Linked DNA regions of Homo sapiens. The protein of the gene in region 3 purifies or fractionates together with the protein of the main gene of each other region. This does not show direct contact. Each region holds a gene or a part of one and is shown on either strand. Other genes may lie near its edges. The genes, in order: SPATA7, EMC2 and HSD17B4.

Evidence for each region.
Region 1: the proteins of HSD17B4 (region 3) and SPATA7 fractionate together in Homo sapiens (co-fractionation; one large-scale study listed by BioGRID). This does not show direct contact.
Region 2: the proteins of HSD17B4 (region 3) and EMC2 fractionate together in Homo sapiens (co-fractionation; one large-scale study listed by BioGRID). This does not show direct contact.

Annotation. Positions count from the first base shown.
Region 1 is NC_000014.9:88,416,521-88,420,178, forward strand, and holds part of SPATA7 (spermatogenesis-associated protein 7), read left to right. Parts: intron 1-190; coding exon 191-324; intron 325-3,658. UniProt on the Homo sapiens protein: Involved in the maintenance of both rod and cone photoreceptor cells.
Region 2 is NC_000008.11:108,450,124-108,453,781, forward strand, and holds part of EMC2 (ER membrane protein complex subunit 2), read left to right. Parts: intron 1-277; coding exon of another isoform or gene 278-304; coding exon 305-369; intron 370-2,938; coding exon 2,939-3,024; intron 3,025-3,658. UniProt on the Homo sapiens protein: Part of the endoplasmic reticulum membrane protein complex (EMC) that enables the energy-independent insertion into endoplasmic reticulum membranes of newly synthesized membrane proteins.
Region 3 is NC_000005.10:119,525,413-119,529,070, forward strand, and holds part of HSD17B4 (peroxisomal multifunctional enzyme type 2), read left to right. Parts: intron 1-504; coding exon 505-611; intron 612-1,720; coding exon 1,721-1,807; intron 1,808-3,658. UniProt on the Homo sapiens protein: Bifunctional enzyme acting on the peroxisomal fatty acid beta-oxidation pathway.

The DNA.
Region 1 (3,658 bases), on a different chromosome or scaffold from region 3:
CTAGAGGCACATGTGAAATAAATAATTTTTAAAATGTGTTAGTAACTCTTTATATAGGAAAATAAATGGATTTTTATTTACATATCATAACATTTTAACAAGAAAAATGTTCCATTTATTACTCTAACAAGACCAAAAAACCAATTTTCTATTTTGTTCCATATTTTGAAAGATTTGTTTTCCCTTTTAGATGCAGACCAACAACGAAGAGAGAAACTCAAAAAGGAATTAGCACAATGTGAAAAAGAGTTCAAATTAACTAAAACTGCAATGCGAGCCAATTATAAAAATAATTCCAAGTCACTTTTTAATACCTTACAAAAGGTAAGATAGTATTTTTATTTTTTAAAAGCAAATGTTTCTAAGGTACTTCTTTAGTGGTACAATCTGACTTTGTTTACTATAGTTTAGGGTCAGCAAATTTTTCCTGTAAAGATCCAGATAGTTAATATTTTAAAAGGCTGTTCAGGCCTCTGTCACAACTACTCTGCCATTGGAAGGCAGACATAGACAGTACATAAATAAATGAGTATAGCCGTGTTCTGCTGAAACTTTATTAACTGAAGACATTGGGTCAGATTTGGCCTGAAGGTTATAGTTTGCAGACCCCAGTTATAGGTTTTTTGTGATACCTTCGAACATCTGGTTAAATAAGTTCTATTCCTAGTTTGTGAAGTTTTTTTTTTCCCTTTCTCCTGAATGGATATTAATTTTATGAAATGCTTTTTTGCATCTCTTGGAATGATGATATTATGATATAATTTTTCTCTTTTAATCTGTGGGGTTTTTTTTTTTTTATATATATATATATAGTCTCACTCTGTTGCCCAGGCTGGAGTGCAGTGGCATGATCTTGGCTCACTACAACCTCCACTTCCTGGGTTGAAACAATTCTCCTCCCTCAGCCTCCCCAGTAGCTAGGATCACAGGCACCCACCACGACTCCAGCTAATTTTTGTGTTTTCAGTAGAGATGGGGTCTCGCCATGTTGGCCAGGTTGGTCTCAAACTCCTGACCTCAAGTGATCTGCCCACCTCGGCCTCCCAAAAAGTGCTAGGATTACAAGCATGAGCCACTATGCTGAGCCTCTTTTAATCTGTTAATGTAATGAATTACAAACAATTGACTTTAATGTTAAACCAACTTTGCATTCCTGTTGTAAACAGAACTTAGTCATGGTACATTACCTTTTTTATTCATTGCTAGATTTACTTACTAATATTTGTTTAGAATTTTGGCATCTGTCCATTATTGATACTGGCCTGTCATTTTCTTTTTTTGTACTCCTTGTGTCTGGTTATGCTATCCTCATAAAATAAACTGGGCACTATTTCTTCTTTCTGTACTCTAGCTTGTGTACATTTGGTTTATTTGTTCCTTAAATTTGGTGGAACTCAACATTAAAATTGTCTAGGCCTAAAGTATTTTTTATGAGAAGATTTTGACTACTGATTCAATTTTTTAAGTCATTATAGAATGATTTCAATGTTAGATTTATGTAGGAAGTTGTTCATTTTATGTAAATTTTTGGCAGAGAATTGTTCATACTATTCTCTTAATCTCTTCTGAATATGTATTATTTCCCCTTGTTATTCCTAAGGTAGTTTATTTGTGCCTTCATTCTTCTTCTTCATCATTCTCATCAGAGATTGAGTCAGTTTTTTTAAAGGACACACTTTTTATTGTGTTAGTCTTCTCTATTGTATTTTGTTTTCTGTTTTGTTAATATCTGTGTTTATCTTTATTTCCCTCTCTCTGGGTTTATTTTGCTGTACTATCTCTAATTTTATTTAATTTATTAATTCTCTGCCTTACTTCTTTGCTAGTGTAAGCATTTTTAATGCTATAAATTTTCCACCAAGTACAGCTTTAGCTGCATCCCACAAGTTTTGATAGGTGGTATTTTTATTATGTTTCAATTCGAAGTATTTTACAATTTTCTTTTTGTTTGTTTGTTTTTGTTTTGTTTTTTGAGATAATGTCTTGCTCTGTTGCCCAGGCTGGCATGCAGTAGTGTGATCTCGGCTCACTGCAACCTCCGCCTCCTGGGTTGAAGCAATTCTCGTGCCTCAGCCTCCCAAGTAGCTGGGACTACAGGTGCCTGCCACCATGCCCAGCTAATTTTTGTGTTTTTAGTAGAGTCTAGTTTCACCATGTTGGCCAGGTTGGTCTCTAACTCCTGACCTCAAGTGATCTGCTTGCCTCAGCCTCCCAAAGTGCTGGGATTACAGGCGTGAGCCACCATGCCCGGCCTACAATTTTCATTATGATTTTTTTATTTAACCCAGAAATCATTTAGAACTATTTCTTAATCTCTGTATCTGCTTTTTCCTTAGTATCTGTTTGTTACAGATTTCTAGCCTAATTGTACTGTGATTAGGAAACATCTATATTATATCCATTTCTTGAAATTTATTGAGCACTTGTTTTATGTCCCAGTAGGTGGACAATTTTTTAAAAATGTCCTGTCATTATATGTTTGAAAATAAAATATATTCTATAGTTTTTGCATGTAGTATTTGATATATAGTATATTCATTAAACTTTGTATTTTCCAGATATTCAAATCTTTTATATCATATTGATTATTTTTGTCTGGTTAATCTATCAGTTATTGAGAGAAATCTTCCACATACTTACATATTTAGCTATTTCTCCTTGTGGTACTATTAATTTTTGATTTACATATTTTGAATGCATGTTATTACATTAGAGATATTAGAGATACAGAATACAGATTTAGAAAATCCTGAAGGAGGTAGTTTCTTGGTGAACTGAACCTGTTATCACTGTGCTTTGAATTTCTTTACCTTAATGCTTTTTCTATTAATATTTTCTGATAGTGATATAATTAAATTAGCTTTATTTTGACTAGTATTTACTTGGTATATCATTTTCCATTTTTTGATCTTAATGTTTTCTTCTTTTTTTTTTTTTAATGTCACTTGCCAATCTCAATGTTTTAGGTTAGTATTTGGTGGGTCAGATTATTCAATCTGATAATCATTGTCTTTTTTTTTTTTTGAGACAGAGTCTCGCTTTTTTACCCAGGCCAGACTGCAGTGGCGCTATCTTGGCTCACTGCAAGCTCTGCCTCCCGGGTTCACGCCATTCTCCTGCCTCAGCCTCCGAGTAGCTGGGACTACAGGCACCCGCCACCACGCCTGGCTAATTTTTTGTATTTTTAGTAGAGACGGGGTTCCACCATGTTAGCCAGGATGGTCTCGATCTCCTGACCTCGTGATCTGCCTGCCTCGGCCTCCCAAAGTGCTGTGATAATCATTGTCTTTTTAATGGGGCATTTAATATGTTTTTATTTCTGGCTTCTTATTTCATACCTTCTATTTGACTCAATGTGGTAGACAAAATTTGAAGACAACACCCCCACAGTGACCCACACCCTTAAGCAATCCCCTCCTCTTCAGTGCAGGTAGGACCTGTAACTTGCTTCTACCCAGTAGAATATGGGAAAGATGATAGGATGTCACTTCTGTGATTCTGTTATGTGGCAAAAGTGAAGGGATATTTTCCCCTGCAGATTAAGGTTTTTGTTCCTTAAAAGAGAATGGAAAAATAAGTCTGGGAAGATTTTCCACAGTGACTGCTGTTTCTCTCCCCAAGCCACACCAAGAGAAGGTGGGAAAGGGATTCTCTCTAC
Region 2 (3,658 bases), on a different chromosome or scaffold from region 3:
ATCAAATAGGCATTTTGTTTTAAAGCTCACAGGGCTGCCAAATGTCTGGCCAAAATGTATTGTGTATGGACTCTTTTAGAACAGTAAAACTATTAAATAATTGGAGATTTTAACCTTACATTAACATATTTTACACTGCTGAAACATGTAAGAATGCATTCTTAGTTTCAGAGATAATACAATAAATCAGTTTTCAGTTATAAGTAATGTTCTCTAGAAATATCAGAAACTAGAATTCATTAATTTCCATTTGGGTTTGTTTTAATATTAAATTCAGTTTTTTTCCCCCTTTATGTGTATCTAGTTTGGATCATATATGAACAGGTGATGATTGCAGCACTAGACTATGGTCGGGATGACTTGGCATTGGTAGGTATTTAAATGAAGTATATATTTAATTTGCTTCATCAATTGTATACCGTAGTTAAGACTTAATGTATGGCTTATATGGAATGCTTTCAATAGCTAGTTTTGAGTGCTACTCTGAACAGTAAGTGGAACTAACTAGATATTTTAGGACAAAGTATCTTATATCTTTTTATTAGTCCTGAGAAGTAGCTGTTTAGTATCCCAGTTTTACTGTAAAGATTTAGTTACTGAAATTTATCTGCTTAGTAAGTGACTTATCCTATTTTATAGAGTTTAAAATAAGAAAGTTTAAAACAATTTTGTATTTTGTGTTATTGAATGACTTTCACAGAATGTAATGTTCAATACTGTTACACAATATTATAAACATATCTGACATAAGAAAATCCCGACGTATAGAACATAACATAAAATACTAATAATGTTTGGCCAGGCAAGGTGGCTCACACCTGTAATCCCAGCACTTTGGGAGGCCGAGGCAGGCAGACCACCTGAGGTCAGGAGTTCGAGACCAGCCTGGCCAACGTGGTGAAACCCCGTCTCTAGTAAAGATACAAAAAATCAGCCAGGCGTGGTGGAGCGTGCCTCTAGTCCCAGCTACTCTGGGGGCTGAGGCAGGAGGATCGCTTGAACCTGGAAGGCAGAGATTGCAGTGAGCTGAGATTGTGCCACTGCACTCCAGCCTGGGCAACAGAGCGAGACTCTGTCTCAAAAAAAAAAAAGAAAAAAATCAAACAAACCTAATACTGCTTTTAAAATAACACTGTAATGGTAGCTATGTTTTTGGACTCATGCTAGGAACGAAGCTAAATGCTTTACATCATGATTTTATTGAGCCTTCATAATTATTTCTTGATTTGATTTGTGTTTGATGTTATTATTATATTTATTTTATAAATCAGAAAGCAGAGGCATCTGTTAATGTTGTTCCTATCATCTTGAATTCTTAAGTACCGCTTCATGCTGCCTCTGTATTTAAACTGAAAGAAAATATGCAAAAACAAAAAATTGAAATACCTGAAAAAAATTCACATCTGAATTAGTATTGTCCTTTTCAAGGTTGGGTTGGCTATACATGTAATTCTAGTGGAGCTGTTAGTGATGAAAACATTCCACAAAACCTTTGTTGGATTACCTTCAGAACCTATGAGACATAGTCTTTTGAATATTCATAGAGGTGACCGTTTTATGTCTTGAGAGAGGTTTTTATTTTTATTTTTTTTGAAATAGCCAAATATCACTTGATAAAGTAGGAAGTCAAATTAGATAACACTATTGATTAATAAAGCAGTATACACAATTAAACAGTAACTTTATAATGGTTAAGATTATTTATACAGTTAGCTTGCTTGACTGACCAAGTAATATGATTTTGCTTGATATCAAAGAAATAAATGAACATATCTTCACTTTTGATTAACTTGAATATTTTTCTTAGTGTGGCAAATTTCAGCCACAAACTTTGAAGCTGTATTTCCAATTCATATTAAAACTTATTTTATTACCAGTTAATAGTTTCATCAGTAGTTAATGGCATTGTTTTGGTCACACATGCATTAATATGCTTCAGTGGACTATTTGTATCATCTTTAACATTTCTAGGACTTCCAAAACTTTGAATCCTTCATATGTTGCTGAGAATGTAGATACTCAGTAAATATTTGATTATTTATTTAGTCAAGTTGATGAGTCAATTATGGATACTTGTTCAAAGAAATTGGTATTCCATCCGTTTAATGTCTGTATTTTCTGACCCCAAATCAGGATATGTTGATTGAAAGGATGATTGATTGGCTGGGTGCGGTGGCTCATGCCTGTAATCCCAGCAGTTTGGGAGGCCAAGGCAGGCGGATCACCTGAGGTCAGGAGTTCGCGACCAGGCTGGCCAACATGTTGAAACCCCGTCTCTACTAAAAATACAAAAATGAGCTGGGTGTGGTGACAGGCGCCTGTAGTCCGAGCTACTTGGGAGGCCGAGGCAGGAGAATCGCTTGAACCCAGGAGGTGGAGTTTGCAGTGAGCCAGGATCGTGCCACTGCATTCTAACCTGGGTAACAGAGCAAGACTCCATCTCAAAAAAAAATAAGAAAGGTTGGCTGATTAATATAAAATTTCAACAGGGCAAAATTAATCAGTGTTTATGTTATTTGCTAGGAACTTGAGATGACTACTAAAAAACTTAGTTCTTACCAGGAGAATGCTTATGCTGTAATTAGGAAGAAAACGCCAGGCGCTGTTGTCATTTAAGTAGGGGCCTGACACATTATAGAAGTAGTTTTTAAGGAGGAATAATATGATATTAGTACTTAAAGAGTTATTAGTGGTTCTCATAATCTGTTCATTTTCCTGGTTAAGAGCATGATCAGTTTCTGAGAACTGATTGTTGCCTTCACTGTAATGTCATAGTGCTTCTTTCAATCCATTATTTGTTACTGATTAATTTCACTTCATGTTATTAGATGACACTAATGAAATTATTCAAGAAGACACATTGAAGACTATATAGGCCATCCATTGTAGCCCATTTAGTATAAATAATGTAATTACTACTCAACCCTTATTTTTTCAGTTTTGTCTTCAAGAGCTGAGAAGACAGTTCCCTGGCAGTCACAGAGTCAAGCGATTAACAGGCATGAGATTTGAAGCCATGGAAAGGTAACCAAATCTTATCAGCTGGCAGGCATGGAGCCTGTTAATCATGGTGGTGTTAATTTTTTTTTTTTTAATTCAGACATTCTAGAGTGTGTGGAATACTGTCTCAATATGGCTTTAATTTACATTTTTTGATGACTAATGAGGTTGAAAACCTTGTCATGTTTGCTTAGATATTCAAATAACTTCTTTTTGAAGTATCTTCTTTAGTCTTTACCCATTTAAAAAATTGCGTTATTTTACCTTTTTTACTGCTGATTTGTAGGAGGTCTTTATATATTCTGGATAAAAGCTTTGTCAGATATATGTGCTGTGAATATTTCTCCCTATTCTCTTGCTTGAATATTTTATTTTCTAAATGGTGCCTTGTGAAGTTTTTAGTTCTGATGAAGTTCAGTTTATCATTTTTTTTTTAATGCTTAGTCATTCTTTTGTCCTGTCCAATAATTCTTTTCTAATGTTTCAACAATATTCGGTAGTGTTTTCTAGACAATAGGAACATTTAAATTATGATTATTTTTAGTTTGTAAGAGTGCTTTCAGACTATTTTTCTTTTTGCCGTCTTTTAAAATTTTATTTTCAGTACTTCTAGATAATTGATTGTGCTGTACAGTTTAACTGTGTCCTTATATTCTGC
Region 3 (3,658 bases):
TACATTTATGCAAAGGATATGGAAAGGTAGGAAATGTGTTCAGAAAATAGTGCACTTGAAATTCAGATTATGGTGGAGGGAAGTTCCCGCTAGTGCGAGGTCTAGGATAGGACCACGAGGGTGGGTGTGTGAGTTATCACAAAGGACAAGGTCATTGGAGAGAGAGCAAGGAACTGAAAGGTTAGGGAAGGATCATGTACCTGTGTGGATGTTGAGAGTACCCTGGATGATTTCATGGTTACAACCAAAACTAAACAAAACAATTGTGTTTCCAGATCTCTCACATTCTTTTCCTGTTTTGTTTTTTTTTTTTCTTTCTTTCTTTATTTCATAATTTCCTCCCAGGAAATACTCTTTAAAAAATATCTACTGTGTTTCTTAAAATAGATGGTATAATTCCTGCTAATGCAGTCTAAGGACATTTTTAAAGTCCTGAATTAACTACACTTGATTTTTAAACTTTAAAGGTACCTGTATCTAACTCAGTGTTCTCTCTTTTCCTAGGTTTTGACAAGCCCATATTACATGGATTATGTACATTTGGATTTTCTGCCAGGCGTGTGTTACAGCAGTTTGCAGATAATGATGTGTCAAGATTCAAGGCAATTAAGGTAAATGTGTATTACTACGTAATTTGAATATTACTTCCTTTTTCTATCTTTAGAGAAGAAAAGGGGTTTTAGTGATTTAATTGAAAATAGATATTGTACTACAGCAATGTACATTTTTATTATTTCATTGACCTGGCAATCAGCACACTTTCTTTTTGTAGCTATAAATAGCTCTGTTGCACATGCACCAGGAAGGATGCACAGTTGCAATTTTGACAGATTAACTGGGTTGCTTTATAAATTAATTAGGTGCATATATTATATATATATATATCAGTACGTATGCCTTGAAAACTCAAGATTTGCTTTTTTTAACTGTTTTATCATTTTCATTAATTTAATTAAAAATGTTAAGTGGCTGATTAAGTCCAATAAACATACATCTACAGCAATATAATGACTGCATATTGTTTTAACTCTGTACTTTTTAGTTGATTTCAAATTTTTATCCATTATAAATAACAAGGAAAAATATCCATGCCCATATTATTTTTGTGTATGTTTAAGCCAAAAGATGTACACTTAAAAAAGTTTAAGGGGTTGTCAAATAGCTCCAAAAGCTTTTAATTTATCCTCCATGCAGTAGTGAAAATATATTTTCTGATGCATTGCCTTTGATAACACTAATTACTCTCATGCTTTTCATTTTGTTACAACTATTTTTTATTATCCAGTAATATATACACAGAGAAAATAATATAAAAAATTATGAAATAAAAAGTGGAATTATTTTGCCCTGCATACTCACCCCAGGCCTCATTCCTTAGACTTAATTTGTACCACTTTTAACTGTTTCTTTAAGTTGTTCTGATGTACCTATATAACTCACCTAATATGATTATGGTTTTATTTCTTGATTTGTCAAGATAAAAAACACTATTTTTTGATTCCATACTTTGAAAGACAAAGAATTGGCTTACTTATATTAGTTACATCTTTATTTTACTAATTTTATCATATTATACTTAGGTCTTTTATGAATTTAAATATCTTTAAACCTTGATTTTTTTTTTCTTTTGTGCTCTCTAGTTTCCTTTCCAATTTTTTCCTCCTACAAGTAAAAGAGTTTCCTTTTAAAACATTTTTAACCCCACAATTCTTTTTTAAAGGCTCGTTTTGCAAAACCAGTATATCCAGGACAAACTCTACAAACTGAGATGTGGAAGGAAGGAAACAGAATTCATTTTCAAACCAAGGTATGAATTTTGCTTTTTCACCCTTCTCACATGCTTTATCATTGTGTTCCATCTTACCATTTTTTTTTGGTTAGTACTATGGATAGAAAGTTCTTTTTAAGTAATGGTAAATTTTAATTAAAAATAAGATACAGCTTGTCTGGTGTTTTCAAAATTTTTATTTATCAGGCAACACTTAATAAAATAGAAGTGTTTTGCACCCTGTGTTTTATTTTCTCTTTTATTTTCAACTAAATTGGTAGCTATCTATGTAGCAGTGGCCCAGCTATTCTGAAAACCCAGCCAACCATGTCTTTTTGGCTCAACTAGTCAATCAAGTCATTGTCAAAATATCATCTTAAAAAATTTAAAGGCATGACTCAGACAGATATACAGTGAAAACATGACAGAAATCTATCTGACTCATTAATGAAGGATCTTGCAATATGATAAAACATGTTCGAAAAAAAATTAGAACAACAGTTTATATGGTCCAATAGGAAAGTTATTCTAAAATAATTTTGCAGAGTTAGAGACAAAATTAGTTAATATCCTATAGAACAATAAAATCTTATCCTTTATGAGTTTTCTCTGGACAGAAATCATATGCATCTTGATTACACAAAAAATCCACAAATTAACAAGTTACATCACAGAGTCTGGGCCTAACAAATAGTAAATGAGGTTATTTTGGGGTGAGGCTGTTAGCAATGCTCCAGTAAAATACTAAAAGGACATGCAATCATTGTTTTATTTGCAAGTTATTAAAAGACAGTTTTTGTTAACACAGTTGACCAGGCTAATACTTTTTGGCTTGATCATTTCATGCTATATAGAGCATATTAAACAACTCCAATGATAATAGGAACAGCTTTCATTTATTGAGAACCTATAAACTGGCAATAGTATTTTCTTTAATATGCATAATAAATCTGTATGTAAATATAAGAAAATCTAGGTTCCTAAGAAAATCTAATCTAGGTGTCCTAAATAACTTGCTCATGGTCACACAGCAAGTGGTTGAGCTGGGATAGAAACCCGATCAGCATGGCTTCAAAGCTTTGATTACAGGCCCCAAATGTCTTTTCTGTATCATGTTTTCTTTCACAAATAGATAACTGCAAAATTCTTCTTACATGGTTGCTTTACTCCTAATTCCTTTCTGCTGGTTGCAATATCATTTTCCTGCTTAATTTGTACATATTGTTTATTTTACTTTTCAAATTCCTCCTGTCCTTCAGGCTTAAGTTCAAGCTCCACTTTGCTCTTAGAGACAGTCTCTTACTATTCCCCACTTTCCTACCCATAGATACACTCAAATTGGTGTTCTCTGAAAGCCTTTGCAGCTAATATCTGTGCCACATATTTTGGAGCCCTCACATTTTCTAATTTGTTTTGTATGAGTAAGTTTTGCTTTTTGATTAAGATTATGAACTCTAAAAGTGTTAAGGACCATGACTATATTACAGGTTTTTATTTTCCTGCAATTCTGGTGATGAATAGTATGTAAATAATTTCTATGGATACAAACTTGAAGGGCTGAGAAATGATTAAATGTCTAAATATAATGTATTCTTGCCATTTTGTTAAATTCTAAGCATGCTGTCTTATCTTTTCAGCATATTTGCTATATTTTTCTTCAGTGATTATAGATATTCTTTTTCTATTAGTTTTAGGACTCCTTCTCTCCCTGCCTCCTTTTCTCACTTTCTCCCTCCCTTCCTCCTTTCCTTTCTATTCTTAAGATATAAGAAACATTTTAAACCAGTGTTTTAAAATGATTTGCTTGATTTGGTAACAATAAAGTAATTTACTGAAGTGCATTTTGTTCATTAATTATCTCTTTCCATGCTTTTCAATGTATGTAATTTG